Linked DNA regions of Homo sapiens: region 1 is linked to region 2. The links come from fine-mapping of genetic effects on gene expression. Tissue or cell type: whole blood. Region 2 holds a variant in brackets; the other region holds the start of a gene. Each region is shown on its reference strand, or each on the opposite one. Region 1 holds the start of LINC01781 (long intergenic non-protein coding RNA 1781). Region 2 overlaps FOXP1 (forkhead box P1).

What was found.
Region 1: it holds the start of LINC01781, and the variant in region 2 is fine-mapped to the expression of LINC01781 in whole blood (TOPMed, PIP 0.96).

What each region holds. Positions count from the first base shown.
Region 1 is chr1:80,529,741-80,542,653 of GRCh38, forward strand. It overlaps LINC01781 (long intergenic non-protein coding RNA 1781), which reads left to right and starts at 6,015. Exons shown (of 3, transcript NR_125941.1): 1 at 6,015-6,202.
Region 2 is chr3:71,437,048-71,449,960 of GRCh38, forward strand. All of the region lies in intron 3 of FOXP1 (forkhead box P1), which reads right to left. Among named protein-coding and RNA genes, the nearest start is that of MIR1284, 99 kb to the right of the region's middle. RefSeq lists enhancers at 6,819-6,928, 7,319-7,458. The variant T/A (reference allele first, on the strand shown) is at 5,843.

The sequences.
Region 1 (12,913 bases), not on the chromosome of region 2:
GAACATGGGGCTGACAACGCAGTATCAGGTGTGGTGTGCTTTTGTAATGTTTAAGTGGCTTTACTGAAACATTATTCAAAGTTCTAACAATAACATTAAAAAATAGTAACCATGCCCTAAATCTATTCGGTTTTTACTTGAAGAATAATGTTTCAATTACAGATTAAACTTTAGTAGATGAATCACATTTCTTGATGCATAAGAACTTTTTAAAATATTAATTCCAAGCATTTCTTCAAGTTTTAGAGTTATACTAGTCAAAATATGCAACCCTAGGTGGCTTAAGGTATTGGTTACTTTCATCTCCTTACATTGCTGGATAAATGTAATCAAGGTTCCCACTCGTCTATTTTCTAAGAGAGACTGACATTGCCGAAGCTTACTTTATATGGTTCGGAAGTCTACACTTGAAATGGCTCATATTTATAATCCTCTGGAAAGAAAAAGGATTAATTTAGAATGCAGGTGTTAATGTGTTTGGACCATGCCTATGTCTCTACTTCTGTGATACTTAACACATTTATTATTAGTCATTTTATGACTGCTCCTATTAATATGCAACAACACTATGCCAAGATCAGCACCTTTCTTTCCATTTCACTCTTGAAAGGACTGAGATATACTGTAAAGAAAGAGGAAACTTACCTATCTGCTATTAATGTTTTCTGTTCTTTTAAAAGAATACTTCAGATGCCTGGAGTATTCTTGCACTTACCACAATCGCTGCCTTAGCTTAATAAAAAAGAATAATTTTATTAGTTTTTTTCATTATTTCCATATATCATGTTGAATATTGATATTACAGCAGTCAAAATAACTGTGAAGTGTTTCCCTTGATATCTTGAATCTCAGTAGAAAGTGATTTAACCCTGCCTTTGCAGACAGACCTGAGTGATAGAGCCTGAATATATCTGGTCAGGCCTCAAACAGCTATATCTACATAACCTAGAAAAATAATTGTTGGAGGCAGAGTATTGTTAATGTCCTATAATTGACTTAGAAGGTTAAGTGACCTCTTAAAAGAATGTGAACTTATGAATTAAGCAGTTCTTTTACTCTCATGGGGCAGTTTATTCGCCAAGAAGAAGTAACTGTTAATGAGCTCCCTAGCTAGCAAAAGCTAGATGTAAAGTATGTACAACTTCAGAATGCCTAGTACTTCATACAGTAACAACAAAAGTTAGGTGTTGAGTTCATTCAGATCTTAATGGATCAAAAGAGAATAAGGGAAGCTTGTTTTAAAAGCTGAATAGCAACAAAATTATTTTGGAGTTTTGTATTCATGATAATTATTATAAATATAAAATTTTTAATGCCTTTAAAGTTTTCACACAAAACATGGAAAATTTTGAACTTTTTAAAGTGGAAATTCATTATTTCTTCTCTACCACAATTTCCCTTGGAATTTGAAGGTACTCAAATCCCATGTTAAAATATTATTAGAATAGAAATTGTCATTCAAGGACGGAATTGGTTTTAATTTAGTAAATAGAAATTTAGCACCCACAATGAGTTAAATTCTGTGCTATGCACTAGGGACACAATGATAAAGAAACTGTGGTTTTGTTTGATGAGGTTTTTTTTCCTCCCATCAAAGAGCTTCCTGTCAAGTGAAAGATTCAATAACTCAGTAGAGTCAATGCCAAGAAGTAAATGCTGTGTTGTGGTTATACCAAGGAAATTATGGAAGTCAGGCCCACTTCTTTTCCTCTACACAGATTGGATCAGCATGAGTGATATCACTCTTAGTTGCTTTTGTTTTAATGTGGACCTTTGGGCTGGGAGTTATAGTCTAACGAGGACTAACTTTTCACTACTCAAGTACAGAGCATATACTTAGCCATGGGTTGGACTGTCATTTCTTCCTGGAGTTCCTAATCATATAAATTACAAAGACAAAGTTTTTTTTTAAAGCCTAATAAATCAAAGAAAGGAGCATGGTTGGCTGAGTCAAAGGTTTGGCAACAGCAACCACTATGAGTAGGAAACTGAATAAAAATATTAAATAGCCATCTGCTAAAAAATAATAAAAATATATTTGTTTCATGCTTAATATGTTTAATAAAAATATATTTGTTTCATGCTTAATATGTTTAAAAACAAGGTCATGAATTAGATATCGTGTTCAAATCCAGAACTGTGGAAGGAATACAAGAGTTGGATGCAGAATTGCTAGCTGTTCTTTTTTTTTTTACTTTTCTATATTTCCTGTAAGAGGTACATTGAAGAGCATCACACTGCTTGATGGCATCCTCTAGGACTAGATGACTGGTCTACTGAGGCTGAGGCATCAGATAGCAGAGAATCAGAAGCATTACTATGACTCTTCTCAATGTCTGATTTCTGAACCTTCCACTGCTCTAATATAGTTTATATATTTCCAATGTAGTTCTATATAGTTCAGTGTTACTTAAAGTATAATCTTGCAGCCTCATGAGAGACCTTGTTAGAAATACAAATAATCAAGTCTCACCCCAGACTTAATCAGAATCTTTCCTATATGGGCCCTGCAACTTGTATTTTAAAAAGCCCCCAAGGTGATTCTGATCCTTAAATTTGAGAAGCATGACTATCAAAGGGTATATGATCCTAAGAATTTATTTGGTAAGAGCTGAATTTGGTAAGAGCAACAGATTTGGGTAAGAGCAATACTTAAATGCTCCAAAACCATTTCTTATGGTGACCTTTTTCTCTCAGGCTAGTGTATACACAAGCACAAGTATTTATTTGGAAGGAATAGGAGCTACAAGAAGTGGTTTTGGAGCACTTTAGTGTTGCTCTTACCCAAATCTGACCCAATTCAGCTCAGGATATTACTATATAAAGCCTATTAAAATAGTGATAGTTTATTTCAAATATAGGAAATTATATAGAGTCTTTTGACATAATGGGATAGCCAGATGAGTAATAGAATTGGAATAATTTGTCCAAAAAAAGTAAAAAGTAAAAAGAAATTTAGGAAATAGAGAAATTGATGATTAATTGTGGAAAGCAAGAACTTTCACAAATGGCAGAATAAATTCTTAGAACCGTATACCCTAAATACTTTTTTGGAACGAACAGAGGATATAACATTATTCATATATATAAACACGCACCTTTAGAAGCAAATGAACATTACCAAGAAGATAAAGCACCAATAAATGCTCAAACTTCTGTATACTTCCTTTAGGAATCAGGAACATAGAAGATATAAATGACACCAAGCAAGAAAACAAAGCCCAATGATAATCTAGTTAGACAAGGCAAATCTATGCATACTTTTCATTCATTTAGGAAAGATCCAGCTGTCTCTTACTATGCACCCAGCACCATGCTAATTTAGAGAGAGAAAGCAGTGAAGCAAACAGGAACAATTCTTTCTCTCTTCAATTTTAGAGCCTTGTCACTGAGGCAGACATTGTAACAAAACAAAATAAAACCAACCCCCCTCCTCCCTATACCTCCAAAGTACACACTAGGTTATAGGCTGACGGCAGGGGGACCAGGGTTTGTATTTTTGCTCTATCATTGACTAGCTCTTTAACCTTGGACAAATCACATCTTTAAGCTTCAGTGTCTATAATGAAAGGTTAATAATAGACCTCAGTATTCGAGTTATTGTGAAGATTAAATGATTCATGATAAATTGCTGACTCATTGACTAGCACATAGTAAGTATTTAATGTTAATATTTTACTGTATAAGTAGATATGCTGTGTTAATTGAAAGAAAAACACAAGGTGTTTTGAGAATATATAACCAAGGAATCTAATTAAGATTCCATACAAATAGTGCAATCTTATACTAAACTAAAACTACCCAGTTTTCTGTATACTTATGCTTTCTGTAAACTATATGGAGTTGAGGCTTCCAGGGACTCTATGTGAGACTGCCAGCTTTGGTTTTTCTAATCTGACATTAGTAAGGTAACACTGAACGATTTACCCTAGTTCTGAAGCAGAATCGTAACATAAAGGACTGCCAGTATGTCCCCTGGTCTTGTTGGCTGGAAATGTTATTTTCATACAACCATTTTCATTTTTAGTCGAGCAGCATTGAAACTTTCCAGATTCCTTGCTGTTTGGCAAATGTTTTAATTGGTTATATTTTGCTACCCTGGGCACACTATTAGACAAAATTGCAACAAAAGACATCAATAAAAAGCAGAAAGCTTCAGATTGTTAAAATCGTGAATGTTATTAATACTATTAAAATGCTAATTGCTGTTTAGAGGAGATTCAGTTGCAATTCTAAAGGAGGAAATGCTTAGGCTGCAGGATCTGAGGCATGGATTGTTTGTTCCCTAAAGGGGAGAAAATTCACTTTTGTTTAATTTATAGGAACAAGAAGGCATTCCAAGGAGGTACACTGAAGTGACTGTAGACCTCCTAGGGTCAGAGCCACCTTCAGCTTCACCCCCACCCTAGGTGGTCCTTAATTGCCACTACAGACTGCCTGGCTGGAACTTATTGTTTGCACTGCACATGACCTTGGATGAAAACTAGAGCGCTATGAATTAATCCCTGTAATATTTTGTGTTTAACATCTGTGTTGTCACCAGCTATTATTCAGAGGACAAGAAAAAAAAATAGCCAGATCTATCTCCTATTACATTTTTTTTTAAGTCTACACTATTGTTTCCCAAGGACTCCCTAAATGGATCACCTATAAATGAGTGAATCCATTCATTTTCTTTATTTTCTGAAACAAAAGTCTACAGAATTTAGGGGATAATACCAAAACCAAATAAGACTATTTTTTCAATAATAGGAATCCCCCAGATATCTGTTTCCTCTATCTATATTGCTATCATCTGTCTTTTCTTTTCCAGTATCTGTTTTAAAATAGGGGAGGATTCCAAAGCACATATATCAAAATAAAATGATTTCATGTATCAGTTACGGCTTTATTCATTGATGAAATGTAGTCACCACAGGGAGAAATGTAGCAACAACTTAGCATCCAGAAATAATACAGAACACTGTGCTGCATTAAATGAAAAATACCTGCAAGAGGAAGTGAGTTAATAAAAATTCAATTACTCAAATGGGAACTTTTCCAAGACCCCAGGGTTAACACCTAGATTAAACTCTCACTCTCACTCTCTCTCTCTCTACACACACACACACACACACACACATGCACACACACACACCTGGCTTTATTAGTTGTCAGAAGTGTTTAAAATACTCCTTTTCCTTTTATATAAATACAAGAGATACATTTATGGCTAAAATAGTTTTTATATCATCAAGCTGAGAACTAGTTTTACATAGGAAGCTAACAATAACAACAATAATAATCACAAGGATTAGAAAGAAAATGACAAAGTGTGTTGGACACGACACAGAACATTTGAAGGCAGACCCCAACACTAGGCTGTAAAATTAAGTAATGAACAGTCACTGTAGAGGGCAGAGTGACTCACAGAAGAGTCAGATCTTTGGTCTTTGATTTCATAGCTCCTTCTTAGATCTTCTCTTAGAGGTTATGGAAAGGAATGATCATCTTGTGAGGCTATTTAGGGAATCTGAACATAAAAGAAAATAGAGTTACAGATGGGTGTTAAGAGACCATTTTACTCTACTTCAATAATGTGAAAAACAGAGTAATTAGCATGGAGAAAAAAATAAGTAAATATGAGCCTAGAATACATCCTATACAGAACTTGAAATATTTTTATAGCCCTAATGTGTACTGAACTTATGTGGAGAGAATAATTTCAGAATGATATATTTAGTTGGGGAGCCACACAAACTGGGCTCTCTTAGATGCTAACTGATTATGGGAAGCAAGAAGTGAGCAGCATGGAAAAGAAATGGTAAGAATTTAGTTGGAGGAGGAAGACATCTGGAGGTTCGGCCCCAGTTAAAAATTCATAGGCAAATCCTGCTGGAAAGGGAGTTAGCAGTTTAATGAATAAGTTATTATCTAAACCCCAGGAGGTTAAATGTTAACAGAAAGGACTTCAACAATGATGTCTTAAGTGCTCCTAACTAGACACATAATGTTTAGTGTGCTGCCATTTTTTCTGAGTGTTAGTTTTAAATAGACTATTGACAAATTACAGATTTTTTTCACGTATTGAAATTATATTCCAGATGATTTTGAGATTTACTGGTATAATATTCTCCTCATGAGGTAGGATGGAAGGGAAGAAATAGAGAAAAAATGTTCTGCTCTGAAATAAATGTGGTGTTTCCTGACAGCGTTTGTCAAGGTAAGGTGTTGTCTTTAAAATGGGACATCTAGTTTCAATTTACATTATGCTTATTTCTAAGACTTCTATTTTTTGAGTTTTATGAGTAGATTCTGCTTTTCTCTATCATTTATTCAGATTATGACCACATGTGGCACTTTCTTGTATGGAGTGGTGAAAGTGGGGAAGGAAGAGAAAAGATATTTTACAGTAATGTCATATAGTAATCCTGTTAAGATTGGAGTTTATGAAAAAAAACACGAGATAAAACATTATTGTGATATTTCTTATATCAAAGTAGAATTTTCTTTCCCTCAATTATTTTTATGTTTTAAAAATGTTTTTCCCTCTTTTTGTCAAAGGCAGCCTCAATAATAGTTATCATATCTCAGTGTTTATGTTCTTAAGGCTTTCAATATTATTAATCAATCTTTCTATTTTTTTAGTAGATCACAAGTTTTAAAGAGTGTATTTTAATATAATACTCCTATTATAGGCCTATAAAATATTTAATTAAGAGAATATAATTTTCTTACTACGTTTCTGTGATTATTCATACCCCGCTCCCTCTTCCCAGAACACTTACTTGCTCCATTAGATTCTTACACAGGACCCTTTCTTTTTCCTATCGTAATTCCCAGCATAATGTGTTATCTCGCAGCCACTTTTTCAAAGTATATTTCCTTAGACTTAATTAGATTAAGAAAAGAGCAGTAACTAAGGCTTCTACCTCTTAATGAAAGCTTCCTTAGCTTTACAAATACCAGGCCAGATCTCTGAAGTTACTGTTTGAAAAGGCCCGATTCTAAAGCACTTTTATCCACATTTGACTCTCTTGAGGCATTTGTTTTTTCCACTTCAACTCACTTAATTGCACATGTCCCCAGTCAGACTGCCTAAAGAGAATGACTGTGTCTATCTTGGTCAGTTTTTACCCCAGCACTTAACACAGAGTCTCAAATAATGCAGGCAAACAACAAATATTTGTTATATTAATTCAGATTCTATATAACGTAGAAAGCAGAATCAATCATCAACGTAATAGATTCTGCTTAATTATAAAGAAATAATTTAAAATAACAATAATAATGATGATGATAGTTAACATTTATCAAATCTTCCCTAAGTGCCTCAGACTTTTCTAACCATTTTGTACAGATTAAGTATCACAAGTCCAAGAGGTAAATGCTATTTTAAACTTTACTTTATAGAGGAGAAAACTGATCACAGCAAGTTTGAGGACATAGTCTTTAGTCAAACACCCAGTAAGGGGTAGAGGTGATACTGACACTGTGTTAACACTTTTAAGCCTCTGACATTTTATTTGTAAAGCAGCTGCTTAATATATCTAAATAACTAAACCTCCCTTGCATTCCTTTTACTACCTATCATGCAGTTACTAATTCAATAAGATCTTTATTATGCCTTAATATTCTATATTTCTCTTCCTAATTTTCTTTTAGAGAAGTGAACTGTATACAAATGAACTATCCTAATCATTTTCAAGTTATTATGCATGCCCCTACTCATTTGTTAGAAAACTCTTTTCTCTTAATTATCTTTTCTCACAATAAATTGATTAAAGCTCATATTATACATATTAGTTTCTTAATTTCTTCCTGCTAAGATTAACCCATGATTATTTGAGAAACCTTCAGATTTGTCCTTGCAAACTTGAACTGCCTCTGGTTAATTGGTTCCTTCTACAGTTCTTCCTTTCTACCACTGACTTGCAGTTACCTCCAGTTATTGAGCAGCTACTTACAAAGTTATTTGATATTTGAATCCCTCTTTTCTAGAAGACATGCAATCTGTTACGCTTTAATTAGCAGGATTATCCTAGGCTATACCTGTCTTCTTCACTAACAGAATTTCTACCTCATATTACTTCTGATTATCAACAACTGGCTTTCTTAGCATCTAACACACTGGAAATTCTGTGTGCTTGATCCCATTTTTAACAGTGCCAAATTTAAATCAAATGTGGTTCATGTGGCAAGGATATTTATTTTTTCTATTTTTTAATTAGTTTTATGCTTTCAGTAACTAGTAGATCAAGATGCATTTCATACCCCTTAGAAACCTGTAGTTTCTGTATGGTAGAAGATTTAAATAACATTGTTATTTAGGGAGATGTGTTTTTGTTTTCTGACTGATTTTTTCTCCTCCAAATCATAAAGGCTTTGTAAATCACTCTCAACATTTTATGAAAGTGACTTGCAAAATAAGATACTTAAATGTAAAATCTTAGTTGTCAGCCATCAGTAAAATAGGCTGTATTGGCTGGGGTCACTCAGTTGCACAGTGTCATCTGGAAGTGAAGAATCCTTGGAAAGTTTTCTCTACTATCACCAAAAATTTTGGAAATCCATATACACATTCCTGATATTGATACAGATGGTCTTCCCAATAGTAAGGTATTTTACTTGAGACATTGAAGATTTATCTTGTTCTTTATAACAGTATAGATTGCTTAATTCAGCCAAGATATTTCAAAAGTTGGAAATTATATTTCCTCTATACCTGACCCAACAATATATTTGTAATTTTGAGTGACATTTTGTTTCTTACACATGAACTGACAATGCATCTTCTGATCAGTAAAGAATGCTAAATTGTGTTAACCAAATGCCCTACATGTTAAATCTATTTCTAATTTTCAAAACAATTTACAGTGTCTACTACTTTTAATTCTAAATATGTAAAATGCTCTAAAAATGTACGTTAAACACTCATCACTGCTTCTAAAACCTGCCTCCATTGATAGCAACCTGATCCATTTCACTATCATTGTTTTCCCATATTACTAGTATGATAACTAGTTGCCTTATTATACCCATGATGTATTCCCTGCAGTCTGTTCTCAACATAGAAGTCAAGTGAGTTCATCCCTTCTTTGCTCAAAACCCTAAGGGCTTCCTATCTGAGTAAAAGAGACAAATTCCTTTTGATGACAAGATTATTTTTAATCTATTCTTCCATAACTTCTTTGACTTCACCTTCTTCTAATTTCCTACTTACTCTTCTCCAGTGCCATTGGCTTACCTGTGCTATTTTTTTTATTCCTTTTCTTTTCTTTTTCTTCTTCCTCTTTTTTCTTTAATAAAAATAAATACAGACAAAATTATTTTCCCTTGTTTTTATTTCTGTCTAGAATGTTGCTCCCCTCAGGGGGCTCACTTCCTCTCCCACGATAAGAGAGAAAAACAGGAAGGGTAACTTGGAAATAAGTTAGTTTTAGAAGCTGTGAACATCTAATTTTTAATAATCTAGGATTGAATTACGATAGATATTTCTTAATACACAGGATTATTTTCAATATCAGTCAACATGAACATTTGAAAATAAATGCTTGATGTGATGTATAATACAGACCATCCTGCTTAATATGCACACTAATCCCCTTCTAGTATGTTTTCTTCTGCTGAAAAGACTGGAAAGATTTTTTTATTTTTATATTTTTTTTGAGACAGAGTCTCGCTCTATTGCCCAGGTTGGAGTGCAGTGGCGCAATCTCGGCTCATTGCAGCTCACTGCAACCTCTTCCTCCAGGGTTCAAGCTATTCTCCTGTCTCAGCCTGGCTAATTTTTAAATTTTTGTTATTTTTTTTTAGATGAAGTCTCGCTCTGTTGCCCACATTGGAGTGCGGTGGTGCAATCTCAGCTCACCACAACCTCCGCCTCCTGGGTTCAAGCGTTTCTCCTGCCTCAGCCTCCCGAGTAGCTAGTATTACAGGCACACACCATCATGTGCAGCTAATTTTTTTATTTTTTGATAGAGACAGGGTTTCACCACGTTCGCCAGGCTGGTCTCGAACCCCTGGCCTCAAGTGATCCACCCACCTCGGCCTCCCAAAGTGCTGGGATTATAGGCGTGAGCCACTGCGCCTGGCCACTAATTTTTGTGTTTTCAAGTAGAGATGGGGTTTCTCCATATTGGCCAAGCTGGTCTTGAACTCCTGACCTCAAGTGATCCACCCCCCCTCAGCCTCCCAAAGCGCTGGATTACAGGCGTGAGCCACCGTGCCTGGCCAAGATTTTTTTTTTAATGCAATGTATAGTTTCCCTTATAATTATGGTTTTGGAAGTAAGACTTCGATTTAGAGCTTCATGGAATGAGAGGCAGGACAGAAAGTGTCCATTTTTGCTGCTGGAGAGTGTAATATTGGTGTGCAGTTCTGGACTAGCAAATATAGTTGAAATGTCCCAATTCTATAGTTAGCCTTCTGATTCCACATCTTGCCTAATCATGGTTGGCTGAGGCAGCAGTCTCCTTGATGGTCAAGTTCTAAAGTGTGCCTTTGTGACTAATTGCCTGTGATAAGTCCCTTTGTCTTTAAAGTAGAACAGATTTTGTTCTCTGTGACACTGCGGACTGAAACAGTTGGTGTGTTTTTTAAATTTTTTTTCTTAAAGTGCAGAAGATTGCATTATCTGTTAAAATATGCCTTAATCTTTGTGATCTGAACATGATACAGAACTTTGGGAATATGCCAGCATACAAAAACATTTTTGTTTAATCATGACATTTAAACTAACCCTCTACCAAGATAAAAGGAGAAAGTGATGTACTAGTAGAGCAGAAATCCACTAGATTGGTTCAAGTTTATATAGCATAAAGGAGTACTACCTTTTGTAACCTCTTTGATTTTTTTCTGCTTTTGAAGAAGGAAAGGTCGAAAATAAAGCACTGATGGAAATACATGATAAATAAGGTAGGTCTCATGGCTACACATCATGAAAAACTAAGCACAACATTAGAAAGAGGAAAATGTGTCAAATATATTCAGTTAACTATACTATGTTAAGATTAAGATATACTACTGTGCTGGAAACACAAAACATCAAGTATTTCACAATATGATAAAATCTTTCATCCCTGCTAGTGACTCAAATAAGTATGTGTTCCTTGCCATTTACAGAAAGGGCATGTCTTATTATTTCTCAATATTATGAGTATGTCAAATGCATCTTCACATATATGTTAATAAAATCTTGAGCAGGTCATCCTTTGGACAGTGATTCTATGTATTTTCACAATGGATATGCAAATGTAGTTATACATACATATATATGAACAATAAATACATATAAACAAATCATCATTTCATTATCATCATCATCATCATATCTTAGGTGTTTAATGGGCACCTATTTGCTTTGAAGTTCATTATGTAATGGAATTCAGGTAAAAAAGCAAATGGCTTCTCATTGTAAGCAGCTTGAAGTATATTTAAGAAAAGAAAACATAACATTTTTATTTTATGGTTTACTGGCTTACTCTCTACTACTCACCATCAGAAGTAACAGAACATAATTTAGCATCCTGGAAATTATATCTAAAAAAGATATTGCAGTAATCTATGGTGGGTATATATGATTTAGCAGAATCACCTGAGACTAAGACATGTGGATTTAATATAAAGTAAGATAAACTTGATATGATCATCAACAATGTAATGAAGTTTGAGGCTGAAATGCCAGAATTATAATATTTAAAACAAAAGATAATCATTTTATTGTAGTTAAATAATACATTTAGTTCTAAATATAAGACACACACATACACACACAGACAGATAGATGGATGGATGGATGGATAGACAGATAGATAGATAGATAGATAGATAGATAGGTAGATAGATAGATAGATATTCTCCTGGAATATTTTTAGGCAAGAAAAATAAGTATAACTAAAATACCTGAAACTCTGAAAGCTTGCTTTGCCCAGAAAAAGGAAGACGATGGTAGAAAGGATCAGGAAATAGTTGCCAGGTATGAAAGCAATTTGACATATTTAGTCTCAATTAAAAACAAATAACTTTCTCTTAGAGATGTCAAGAAGTAAAATATACTTAATCAAAGGATACCAAGCTATCTGTCAGAGGAGCTGTTCAAGCAAAATTTATTTGACAAGTGGGTTGAAATGATTCAAAGGAAAGCCCGACCTCTGAAATCTATCGGACCAAACTTTAATTTCCCTTTCAACATCAAAATACTATGCTTTTGAAACACACATTAAAATAAGCATACAAGTCAATAAATGCCAGTCACAGATAATTTGTAAGTGCTAAGAGAGTTTAGAGATGGTAGAGAAAATAACTTCTATGGTGGAAAAAAAGCCTCAAAAAAGTAATGGGATTTTAATTGGACCTTTAGGGGAAAAAAAGGAGTACATGTTGCAAACATTCCAATAAAGGGAAGACATCTGATCAAAGATAAGAAAAACCCAAATATGTGTAGAATTTTCAGGGGAAAAAAATGATAAAATATTCCATTTGTATAGTTTATACCAATTTTCAAAATTCAAAACAAACATTACACATTTTATTCTCATAGTGTCCCTGTAAGGAGATAATGTTACCTACACTGCAAAAAGAAATGAAAACTTAGGCTGGTCACAGTAAAACTGCAACTAGGACCTGTACTTTCTAACTTGCTTACAAGTGTTCATTCATTCTACTCTATCTTAAATGACATTCCATGGAGCAGAGTGTAATCTTCTTTTCATAGTAGATGTATATATGAGTCACATCTTGGAACTCGCAAAGAAGTTCTAAATTTTGAGCACTGTGTAATACATATTTATTGTCCCACAATTGAATATGTGTTTGCATGGGAAATATGTTTCTTTGAAGGTATTCTTTGAATCCAGTTATTTCAAAGACAAATAAATTATATGCCATTATGGCTTCCTTCATGTTGCATGTACAGCTATTATAAAATCCTCTT
Region 2 (12,913 bases):
AAAAACAGAAAGCTGGCATTAACGTTTCTCAGTCTCTTTGATCCAACAATGTCACTTCTAAGAATGTATAAAAAGGAAAACAGAGCTGGGCATGATGGCTCATTCCTGTAATCCAAGCACTCTGGAAGGCAGGCAGATTGCTCGAGCCTAGGAGTTCGAGACCAACCTGGGCAACATGATGAAAACCCGTCTCTATGAAAAACACAGAAATTGGCCAGGCTTGGTGGTGCACAACTGTTGTCCTAGTTACTTGAGAAATGAAGGTAGGAGGATCGCTTGAACCTGGGAAGTTGAGGCTGCAGTCAACCACGATCATACCACTGCACTCCAGCCTGAGTGACAGAATGAGACCCTGTCTCAAAAGCAAAACAAAACAAAACAAAACAAACAGAAAACAAATCATGAATACATACAGAGTTTGGAGGTACAAGAAGCCAACAGCCATTCTCCACTGGGCTCTCCTGACTCACCAGGAATGGCAGATGCACTGGACTGGGGCAGAGTGAGGGAGCAGAATGAGGTCCCATCACAGGAACACCCCAGGTCTCTCTGAGTGTTCCCCAAAGAAGAAGGTATCACAGACACTCAGCAATGGCTCCACCATCCTCTCTCTCCACCCAGCATAAAACGCAAGCCCAAAGGGTGGAGGAGCATGAACTTCCGAGTCTGTGATCATCATAATGCCTTTGGGAATAAAAAGAAACCCTGCTGGACAGGAATTAAGAGCCTGTTCCTCTGGCTGGGGCGTAAGAGACCCAAACCAAAAAAATGATCAGGTGAAAAACAAGCTGCCTCAAGAGGACAGGGCCCCACCCGCACTTGCAGACAAAAAGAAAAGCTTGGTTCCAGGAGGTGAAGAAAAGCTGTGTACACGAAATTGAGTCAAAGAGAGCCCACGGATCTGCTGATGGGAGGGGTAGAAAATTAACATGGATTGAAACAATAACAGTGACTTATTTCCAGAAGAAATGTATTTATGTGATTCTACCACTGGAATCTATCTCTACTAGTTATATGAAAGTAATGGGATAAAAGCAAACAAAATAATTGAACAATTTATTACCTTCAGGAAAATGTAGGCATCTAACATGTTCAGTTACGCACAGGAATTACAGGAATGGAATAACATGTAGACTCTTTAAGAACACTGTGTCTGGTTTTGCTCAGCACTGAATTCTTGGCTCTTAAAATCTATTTCTGAATGAATGAATGAATGAATGTTGTCCCTTATTCTTCATTTTCTGGCAGCCTCGTTTAATATGAGCTACATCGGCCGGAAAGTACTGGTGTTTTTGGATTGCTTTCAAAAATGTGAAAACAGCAAGACTAATCCTATTTCCACTTCTTTATCCACCTTTAAGAGTAACCTGCTGTGGCATGAGTTCCTGTGCATTCCATTATCTCGGCTGACTCTCCATCCTCCTGGCCATCAGCAGAGGAAACTCTGGCTCACAAAAGGATTTAGCATCCTAGCACAGTAGGGATTTCGACTTACGGCCACCTTCTCCAGGCTCCCCTCCACTCACATAATTTTGGTCTCCAAACATTGAGACTGCCTCTCCCTTGGGTCTTTTGGACCTCATTTATACCCCCCAGCAGTTGATGGCCAAGATCTAGTCCTCATCACAAGGCTTGGTAGGCCCATTCTGCAAATAGAATTATATAGATTTAGGGAGGTTTCAGTCTAATTTGGAGAAAAAAAAAAAAAACCAGTCTCCATAGATACAAGCTTTTCAACATATTGCTTTTTTGCTCTCCTGTTTTCTTACACTGAGAATGTCAATGCAGAACCGGAATATAAAGTAAATTACACAGGCTGGAGGACTGAGCATCCCACCCAGCCCTCCCCAACCCCACTGGTGGAGACCACAGGGCAGAGTGGATGGTAGCAGGGACAGGAGCTCTTCGGAGGCAAGGAACAGAGCCTTAAGGTTGGAGCTACAACCCGCTCTCCAAGGCTCTATAGGAAGGAAGACACCAGCTCGCTGCTCTCACAACTCATCTTCCTCTCCACTGTTTCATTAAATTGCACAAGGATGGGACTGCCTATGCAGGTGGCAGACAGGCAGTGAGGGTGCCAGGCCTTGCCACAGATGCAGAGCTCGGGCAGACTTCAGGCTACAAGCAGCACAGGTCCTGATGACAAAGTGGTCAAGGTGTGATTATGGCTGCACGAGAGCTGCTCAGAACCCTGGGACCATGCATGCAAACGATTGCCTTTTCCTGGTTCCTGAAAACCTTTCTGTGTGTCCATGTGCATAGGGTGGGAATGGGAGAAAGAATCAAAGGTAGCAGTGATGTAATGAAAACCTTCAAGAAAGGGTGGGGAGGGGTCTGAAGGGCAGTGCATTCTATTTCTTTCAGCTAAGAAAAGGTAAGAAAACTTAGAAGAAGGAAAAATAGAATTACCACATGATCCAGCATTTCCACTACTGGGAATATTCCCTAGAGAACTGAAAGAAGAAACTTAAGAAATACTTGTACACCCATGTTCATGGCACTATTATTCACAATACTTAAACGGTGGTGGCAATCCAAGTGTCCAGCAAAGGATGGATAAACAAAATGTACACACATTCAACAGAATATTATTCAGCCTTTAAAAGGGAGAAGGGGCCAGGCGCAGCAGCTCAAGCCTGTAATCCCAGAACTTTGGGAGGCCGAGGTAGGCAGGTCATTTCAGGTCAGGAGTTTGAGACCAGCCTGGCCAACAAGGCAAAACCCCATCCCTAGTAAAAATACAAAAAAATTAGCTGAGTGTGGTGGTGCACGCCTGTAATCCCAGCTACTTGGGAGGCTGAGGCAGGAGAATTGCCTGAACCCAGGAGATGGGGGTTTCATTGATCGGAGATTGCACCATTGCACACTCCAGCCTGGGCGAGAGAGTGAGACTCTGTCTCAGGAAAAAAAAAAAAAAAAGGAGGAAGTTCTGAATCCTGCTGTAACAGGCACGTACCTTGAGGACATTATGCTAAGTGAAATAAGCCAGTCACAAAAAGACAAATACTATATGATTCCATTTATATGAGGTATCTAGAGTTGTCAAATTCATAGACAAAGTAGAATGCTGGTTGCCAGGGGAGGAGGGAGTTTCAGTTATGCAAGATGAGAAAGTTCTGGAGACTGGTTGCACAACAATATGAATATACTTAACACAACTAAACCTTACACTTCAAAACATTTAAGATGATAAATTCTGTTATGTGTATTTTACCACAATTAAAAATAACAAACAAGTCCAGGTGCAGTGGTTTATGCCTGTAATCCCAGCACTTTGAGAGGCCAAGGCAGGGGAATTGCTTGAGGTCAGGTGTTTGAGACCAGCCTGGGTAACAAAGTGAGACACCGTGCCGGGCGCGGTGGCTCACGCCTGTAATCCTAGCATTTTAGGAAGCTGAGGCGGGCAGATCACGAGGTCAGGAGTTCAAGACCAGCCTGGCTGATATGGTGAAACCCCGTCTCTACTAAAAATACAAGAAAGTTAGCTGGGCATGGTGGCACATGCCTGTAGTCCCAGCTACTTGGGAGCCTGAGGCAGAAGAATCGGCTGAGGCAGAAGAATCACTTGAACCCGGAAGGCAGAGGTTGCAGTGAGCCAAGGTCGTGCCACTGCACTCCAGCCTGGGTGACAGAGCAAGACTCTGTCTCAAAAAAAAAAAAAAAAATAGTTATCCAGGCATGCTGGCATGTGCCTGTGGTCCCAGCTACCCAGGAAGCTGAGGTGGGAGGATCACTTGAGCCCAAGCGGTTGAGGCTGCAATGAGCTATAATCATGCCACTACATTTCAGCCTGGGTGACACAGTGAGACCCTGTCTCAAAAATAAAATAAAACAAAATAAGAATAAGGAACAAAAAATTGGAAAACTAAACAAGCAAAAGACCCTACCCTGTTCCTCACATTTTAAAGTGAAACTGGTATTAAATGGAAAGCATGCACCAGGTATATGTTAGGAATTCTCTTTTTCTGTCAGCTATGATAGTACTTCAGGTTTTTTAAAGGTAACTGCATTCCCTATTGCAAACAGGATAATATAAAACTTTTTTCAGCTGCCTCTTGTGAAATTTTGTTCCATATTTTAGATTAGAGACCTAGCTTAGCAGTGCCTTTAGTAAGGGTAAATAACTTTGCAAATCATGGCACAACTCCCTAGGTGGGACTGTACTATGGATCAGTCATTCTCATGGAAGTAGAAGGTAGCTTTAACCCCTACGGGACATACATGTGGAAATGTCTGGAGACAGTCTTGGTTGTCACTGTCATGGGCAGGAATGAATGGCAGAGGCAAGGATGCTGCTACACATCCCACCGTGCACAGCACAGACCCCACAACAAAGAACTTTCTGGCCCCAAATGTCAACAGCGCTGAAGTTAGCAGCTCTGCTCCAGATTGGCCTAGCAGTTCAGGCATCTTGTTTGTTTTGCTCTTCCTTTTACCCATGCCTGTGAGCAGGCAGTGGAGTGAGTAGTCACTAACATGTCAGGCCCTGTGCTAAATGCTCTAGGAGAATGATCCTACGATGCCCCCGGCGTCACTAACAGGGAACCATTTGGAGAGGTTGAGGAATGTGTCCAAAGTCAGTACCACTGGTGGAATTTTAAATCAGTCCTAAAGACCTCCAGGGTGGTGTTCTTACCTCTGCTTCGTAAACCCTCAAGTTCTCAAACTCATTCTGGCTTGTGGGCAGCAAGCCAGGGCACCAGTGCTCAACAAGACACGCTATAGAGAACACTGGCACTGGGAACTGTTAGCCAAGTCCCTTCCCACTGAGGCCCTTCAACATCTTGGCAGCCTATCAACCCCACTCAGACTGCAGAAGAATGTTTGGATTCGAGGGGAAATTGGGGAAAAATTATTTTCTAGATTTTATAAAGGTTACTGTCATTTGCACATAATAAATCTCTGTTCTGCCTGATGTTATTTGCATGAAGAGGGCTTCACCCACTACGTTCTTAACGATATCTTCACCAGAACCTTCCCATTCAGAAGTCATGCCTACACAACTTTGAGAATTCCCAAGCACTAAACATCTCAGGAGCTGAACCATCTAGGGAACTCATATTCATGCCTCAAAGCCCTGTTCAGACTTGGTGCCCCACTTTTGTGGAGCTTGACCATATATGTCCCAGATGCCCCAGTTGTTCATTCCTTCTGCATAGCTCCATACTGTAACACCCTGACATTGTACGCATACTTCTCTACATTAACCATTAGCCAACCAGACTGAGTTGCTTGACACAGGGACTAAGGACACGTCTTTGTATAGGTTTTGCATATTACAACAGGCCAACTACAGCACCTGTCAGAAATGGCTGAAGACCTTAAAAAGCCAAAAAAAAAAAAAAACCACATTCAGAGATCAACTAAAACACACAAGGAGACACCCACAGGAGGACACTGGTGATTTCCTCTGAATCTTGAGAACGTCCAGCTGATTTTAGTGAAATTATTCATGCAAGTCTCGCGCAGTGAGTTGGGTGCTGGGATGTCTGGAGAAAGCTACATGGGCACGGAGGTCCTCTCTGTCGTCAGTATCATCCTGCACCAAACTAGCCGCGGCCCCAGTAATAATGCCACAGAGAAGCTTCCTCCATTCCATGGTCTTGGTTTTTTCTTTTGTTTTTGTTTTTTTGACAACAATCACAGTCACTCCCACGTCTGGATTTGTCAAAAGCCCAGGCCTGCTCCATCAGGAAAACCAGGGAGAAGGGGATTGCAGGCGGAGTTGCCTGCTCAAAAAAATGAAAGCATGCAGATTGTCAGGCCCCACTTGGGACTTAATCTGAATCTCTGAGGGTGGGGCTCCAGCACCTGCAGTTTTTATTTAAATCTTTTTTTATTT[T/A]TTTTTTATTTTTTTGAGACATAGTCTCGCTCTGTCACCCAGGCTGGGCTGGAGTGCAGTGGCGCGATCTCAGCTAACTGCAACCTCTGCCTCCTGGGTTCAAGAGGTTCTCCTTCCTCAGCCTCCTGAGTAGTTGGGATTACAGGCATGTACCACCACACCTGGCTAATTTTTTTGTATTTCTGGTAGAGATGGGGTTTCACCATATTGGCCAGACTGGTCTTGAACTCCTGACCTCAGGTGATCCACCCGCCTCGGCCTCCCAAAGTGCTGGAATCACAGGCGTGAGCCACCACGCCCGGCCCTTATTTTGTTTTTAACTGACACACAATAATTGTATGTATTCATGGGGTACTGTGTGATGTTTTGATACATGTATATTTGGTGTCATGATAAAATCAGAGTAATTAGCTTATCCATCACCTCGAACATTCATCATTTCTTTGTAATGAGAACATTCAAAATACTTTCTTCTAGCTCTTTTGAAATATACAATACTTTATTGTTAATGACAGTCGCCCTACTGTGAACAGGACATGGGCACGTATTCCGCCTATCTAACCGTAACTCTGGGTTCACGTCTGTCGGTCTAACAAGCCCTCCAGGTGACCCTGATGCACACTCGAGTTGGAAAGCCACTGCCTTCTCTCCATGCTTCTCAACAGTCATGACCATCAGAATCGCCTATAGGGCTGGTTAAAACACAGACTGCCAGCCCTCATGCCAGATTTTCTGATTCTGCCACTCTCCCTCCAACAGGGCCCCAGAACCTGCATCCCTAGCAAGCTGCCAAGTGACCTGCTCTAGGGATTTCTGAAACTAAAGAAGGGAGCTGAGTCTCATTTTGTATCCTTTTGTCATTTTTTTCTCACTTGTATATACTTTTAAATAAAGAATGGAGGCTATTTCTCAGCTGATGAGAAAATTCTATAGTATTGTAGGGTGGCCTTATGATGATCCAAGAATATACCAAAATAACCTCTTCAACAGAATACTATTTCCCCTTTTACCCTTCTCTCCCAATATTCTATGAGACCCCCAAAGGCAAAAAGCACCCCACATTTTGGACCAGCAGCTTGGCACTCAGCCTCCTTCAGAGGGGCTTCACCAGCCAGCCCCAGCCCAACTGGTTTCTACCTAAATACTCACTCCCTATGCACTATAGCTACTGACTTTGCCTCAAAGTGATTTCTCTCTCAAACGCCTAGTACATCAACGTCAATTGGCACTGGTTTCTGTTAACGAACAGACTGGCCTGCGCCAACCACAGCTTACCACACGTGTACTCGGCCTACTTCCCTATTTTCAATGCCTAATGATTTTTGCTGCGCCTGAACACATCTGGAGGGAGCCAGGCCCACTGGCTGCCTCTCGTCCCACTCCAGGCCCTCCTACAAAGGTGCACTCAGCAAACCCTCCAAGTACAGACAGGTTCTACAATGTTGCTCCAAGTCAGAGAGGAGGCCTCAAACAATCAAGGATTTTTTTTTTTTTTTTGGAGAAATGATCAAACCCGGGGGTGGGGACAGAACTTCCTGCAAGAAACCGCATCCTGAACAAGCATCACCACGACTCACTGTAAATAAATACTCTCTCCTTGCAGCACTTCCGTCAACTGTCAGGGCCCTGGCTCCAATCGCCTTTCAAGTCCAAACAGGAAAGGGGAGAAAAGAGAGTGAGATGGCAGATAGGAGGTTTAATTTGCTTCTTGCTGCAGTTTTCATTGGTGGGGCGCTTCCAATTCAGCAGGCCTGCCAGCTGCCTGGAATTGCTCCTGGACCCCACTTTTTCCTGTTAACCTTCATAATTGTATTATTACGGGCCAGCCCACAACTGGCCTACCCAAGGCTCAGAGGAGTGCGGCTTCTTCCCTACATCAGATAAGAAGCCAAAATCAAACAGGCCTGCTGCAGACAGAAAGGCAACTGATGTTTGCGAGGGATGCTCTGTACATGCCTCTGCTGTGACTTAACCCAAGGGATTGGGGGGAGTGGGGATGGCCATGGGGACTGGAGGGTAGAGGGTTCAAGAAGGAAATAAGTCAGTGACCTCAATTTTCTGGAAAACGAATGTGAAGGATATCCTTTTCAAAGTGCACAATGTGGCCGGGCAGGGGAAGATGTGCAAGGGAGATCTTTCATTTCAATAACAGCAATAGCAAGTACTTCTGGAGTGCAGACCACGTGGCAGGCATGACATAAATAGCTTCAACATACCTTTAGTCCTTAGTGTTCTCCATGGTACCTGTGAGGGAAGAGCCATAACCCCCATTTTACCAATGAGGAGGCCAAGTGTGGGAGGGCTACAGAAACACAGGCTGCTTCACAAACCGTAAGTGGCAAAAGCAGGAATTCAAACTCAGTTTTGCCTAAATCAGGGCTGCTGTGAACAGCTGGGAAGGAGGTGTACTGCACAACTGAAACGAGTGCCACACACATCTCCAGCAATGTAAATGGCAGCTCAGCAGTGTTTTGCCTGAACCGGAATGGGGCTGATGCTGAAGTCCACATTTTAACCATGGAATATACTGCCTCCCAAAGGTTCTGGAAAATAAAAATGAGCTCTGTCCAGAGCTTCTCAAGAAGTTCTAAGATTCTAAGGTAGTATGAACTCCATGGCTTTCAACCAAGTCAATTTGCCCTATATAAAGGGCCTTTCTTTGTTGAATTCCCTATAATTCAAATTTCCCATTTGTTTCTGTGTTATGTATGCCCCAAGTCTGTTTTTACACAGTATTGAAATTAACAATGCCTGGCATATTAATAATAGATATAAATATCTATCAATAGATATTTATACCTTTTTTTTTTTTTTTGAGATGGAGTTTCACTCTTGTTGCCCAGGCTGGAGTGCAGTGGCGCAATCTCAGCTCACTGCAACCCCCGCCTCCTGGGTTCAAGTGATTCTCCTGCCTCGGCCTCCCAAGTAGCTGCGGATTACAGGCACGTGACCCAACCCCAGCTAATTTTGTATTTTTAGTAGAGATGGGGTTTCACCATATTGGCCAGTCTGGTCTCAAACTCCTGCCGTCAGGTGATCCGCCCACCTTGGCCTCCCAAAGTGCTGGGAATTACAGGTGTGAGCCACCGTGCCCGGCCTATGTGTGTCTTTTAACACATACAAGTATCTATTGAAAACAACTCATAGGTGAGTGAGTGAGTGAGTGAGTGAGTGAGTGAGTGAGTGAGTGAGTGAATGAATTCAGGCATTCAATGTGTCATCACGATGGCCAAAGCAGAAGACAGTTCTTGCCCTTCTCTGAGAAGCCTGGGCCTCATGGAGAAATGGGTGCTCTGCCATCTTGCTAAGACTGGCTTCCATAAAAGCTGCTGTCACTTGTGGGCACCCTTGATTTTTTTTAATATAACTATGAAAATTCAGGCTCGGGCACAGTGGTGGTAGCAGCTCTGGTTGCAGATGGAGGTAATATAATATGTTGTTGGCAGCCCAGGAGGAAACAGGGAGGGTAATAAGCAGAGAAAAAGCATGTTCAAGAATGAAGGAGTGGGTGAAACCTCGTAAACTCTTCGCAGACAAGACATGCCCCCTGGAGCCTCTGCCCTAAGGAGGGAGGGAGCCAGGCGGCTTCCCAGAGGCAGAGGAGGATGAAGCTAGAGATAGGGCTGAGGTGCCCAGGGCACCTGCTGCCACACACTGAAAAAAAAAATTAATAAAAGTAAAAATGAACCACTGCATGTAGCAGCAAAGTGTTATTAAAACACTGTAATGTCTCAGAGGTTCCTATGAAGTCATGTTCTTACAATTCACTCATAAGAATTTAAAGACAAAATTATATGCCTCGTAATTCTCCAATGAGTATGTTTCTCTATGGATCCCATTGTTTAGATGGGATGCACAGCTTCCAGCAGGTTTAAATCATTGAAGGGATTTTAAAAACTGGCACTTTCCAGAAATCTGGCTGCACATTCCTCAGCAGGAGTAAGTGTCAATACAGATTATGTCTACATACTTGTGTATACCAGTACATCTATTTCAGGACACGCTTTCCATCAGGGTTGCAAACTCAAATGCCCATAGGGGCCAGGCAGTTGCTTCAATGGATTCAATGGATGAAGCAGGCAGGGACTCAAACACTAGGGAGTGGGTGGGAATGCATCCCTAACAGACAGCTTTGACAAGCCCCATCTAAATGGGCACTTGACCCCAGCATGGGAGAGGGGCTGGTGTTACTACATCTTTTGGTTTGTTACAAGAAGTCAGGAATCTGGGCTCTGCATAGGAAACCTCAGTAAATAAATGCCAGTGATCATCCAAATACCTTATTTAGAATACCATACAAGTTAGCATGTAGTTGTGGCCTGAATACCTCTGTCTACACCTATGTCTACACATACAGCAAGAATGACTGTTTAAATTTAGCCACTATGTTTCCAGGCCCCTCTGCCTTACACATTCTCAAGCTAGTTTATGAGGCACCCCAACGAGCTTACAAACAGTCACATCCACTTAGATGAATGGCCTGAGTCAGGGAGGAACCTGCCAATCTGGGCAGTGATTGGCAACCAGGTGCCACATGGCTGGAGTCAGATCTGAAAGGGCATCACTCCAGCTGGAAGGAAGTAGGTCAGTGGCCTAGTTCCACAGGTCTGCATACCAACCTGCTCCCATTCCATTGTACTTTTCCCTTCTGGACAGATGAAACCATCGAGGCCTATGTCCAGTTACCAGACAGAAACTGAGAGGACCCACTAAGGGAGCGTGTGGATGAGGTTCACGCTAGCAGCATGGTTCTTTAAAGGAAGCTCATCCACGTCCAGCGTGCCCTACCTGTTCAGACACAGGTTGCAACAGATAGAAGCAAAGCCCTTCTAAAAGAATCTGGCCTTTTTCATATATTTTTATTAAACTTGAATACTCACCAGAATGGGGCAGGGGGAGAGGGGTTTGGATATCATGTCTTTCTCTTTCACCCTACTCAAGATCATAGTGAAATTTCAACATTTGCAAGTATAGAATCTATACAGTATACTTACAACTATGCAAGTATAGAATCAGCCAGAGACAAGTGTAGACACGTTCAGAGAGAAGAACCTCAAATGACTCATTCTTCCAGTTTTCTCAAACTGATTTCAGCTTTGAGGAAAGAGGCTTCATTCATACACACCACACATCAGATAGTGCCAGGCCTCATGGAACCCTTCACGGGTTGATGCCTCTAAACAACGCTTCCCTGCCGAGGAATGTGAATGTTGCCAGCCTTGGGGACGGAACCCCAGCACAGAAATAGACTCCTTCTAAGATTTCAATCTTAGTGACTGACAGACACCTCCTAGTCTATCAGGAGATCTTTATCCCCTGACCAGGGTGAAGGATTCCCACTGCTTCCTTTCCCCTTACACACACCTCTCTGAACAGCTTCCACAAAGAAATGTACAAAATCCTGCTCCATTAAGTCTGCGAAAACAGTATGGGCACTAAATGCTTTCCTCATTCTGCAAAGAAAGGCTGTTGACTGGTAAGGTTTAAGCAATACTTAAGAAAGAAATTCTGGTACCTCTCCCAAAAGACAAACTGTACCTATAATAATATCCCTGGACAATTAATGGAACATAGCAAAGACTACACAGTGGTTAAGATCACTGGTATTAAGAGCACTGGCTCATGGGTTAGGGTCTGTTGTTATTGACCTGTGAACTTGGGTAAATGATTTAATTTCTCCAAGCAGCAATGTCCTCATATGTAAACTAGTAGGTAATAATGGTACCCGCAAAAAGGAGTTTTCCTTAAGAATAAAATGGGACGCATTCAAGAACACTTTGCAAAATACCTTAACTAGTAGGTAATGGTGGTAGTGTCTACAACAAAGATAATTCCTGTCGGCTGCTTTACTGTCCCCAGCTAAGATGCCTATTCCAAACTTCTCTGTTTTGAATACCAAATTACCATTGCCACAATTTCAGAACCAAATCACTGGCAAGTAAGAATCCTTAGAAACCTGCTTAGCAAACTTTGACCTGGGAATGCCGGCACACGTCTTTTTCATGGAGGACACTTGCAACTGTACAACTTAGTAAGGCGTGGGCATGCAAAGTTTATTAGCTAATGTCAAACCCTAGCTCCAATGAAATCAAAGAACAAAATGCGTGTTATGACCAGACCTAACCCCAAACTGGTTTTTGGTTCAGAAACAGAATGCCTGCCAATTCGGGGAAACTACATAGAAACAGTAATCAAACAATATTATATGATCATATTCATTGTCATTATTAAATTTTGGTAATAAAAACAGGGTAGAAATATAGAAAGAGCAAAAAATTGATGTGTTTTACTTGGGTCAAGGTTTTTCTTAATTGCAAAAATAGAGCAGGGCCCAAATTATAGGAGGCAAGCAAGGTGCCTAGGGTGCAAAATTTAGGGAGGCACTAGCTCTCAGGATCGTCCAAGTTCAAGATCAGCATTGACAGCAAATGCCTCCTTAAATTTTCCACCCTAAACACCCTCTGTGGCTCCCCTTAATCCGGTGTTAAAAGAAGTGAAATGTAATTTTCATGCATTTGTGTGTGTGTGGCAGTAACCTGCAAGGAGGCTCCAAGATGTACACTGATGGGCAACATTACAACACATCTTTCCTTTAAAACCCAGAATTTCATGGCTGGGAGCAGCCCAGGCAAAGGACTATTTCCTAGAACCTTACCAAGTTCAAAGGCAGCTCTTTGCAACTTTGTGAGGGTTTCCTTTCATCAGCCCTCAACAACCTTTTCTTGTCCTCTCCCATACAAACAGGGATTAATTCTACAAGCAGCAGAAAATCCTATTCTCAGATATAATTTTTGCCCATGTAAACCCTATGGAAGAAAGGGGTGCAATGTAAAATGAATAGGGGTCACTTACTGATCATGCAATCTGACCACTCGAATTGAGGAATTCTTTTTTAAGGGGCTGTTTATAAATGAATCATTGTTTCATTAGATAAATATTCACAAAGTTTATTTTTAGAAAAGCTAAACCATAACAAAGTATAACTAAATACAATCTCACATAGGTCTATGAAATACGAGGTAAATAAAAGTTTAAAAAATCTCAGAGAGGTGACTTCAGTCATAAGGCATG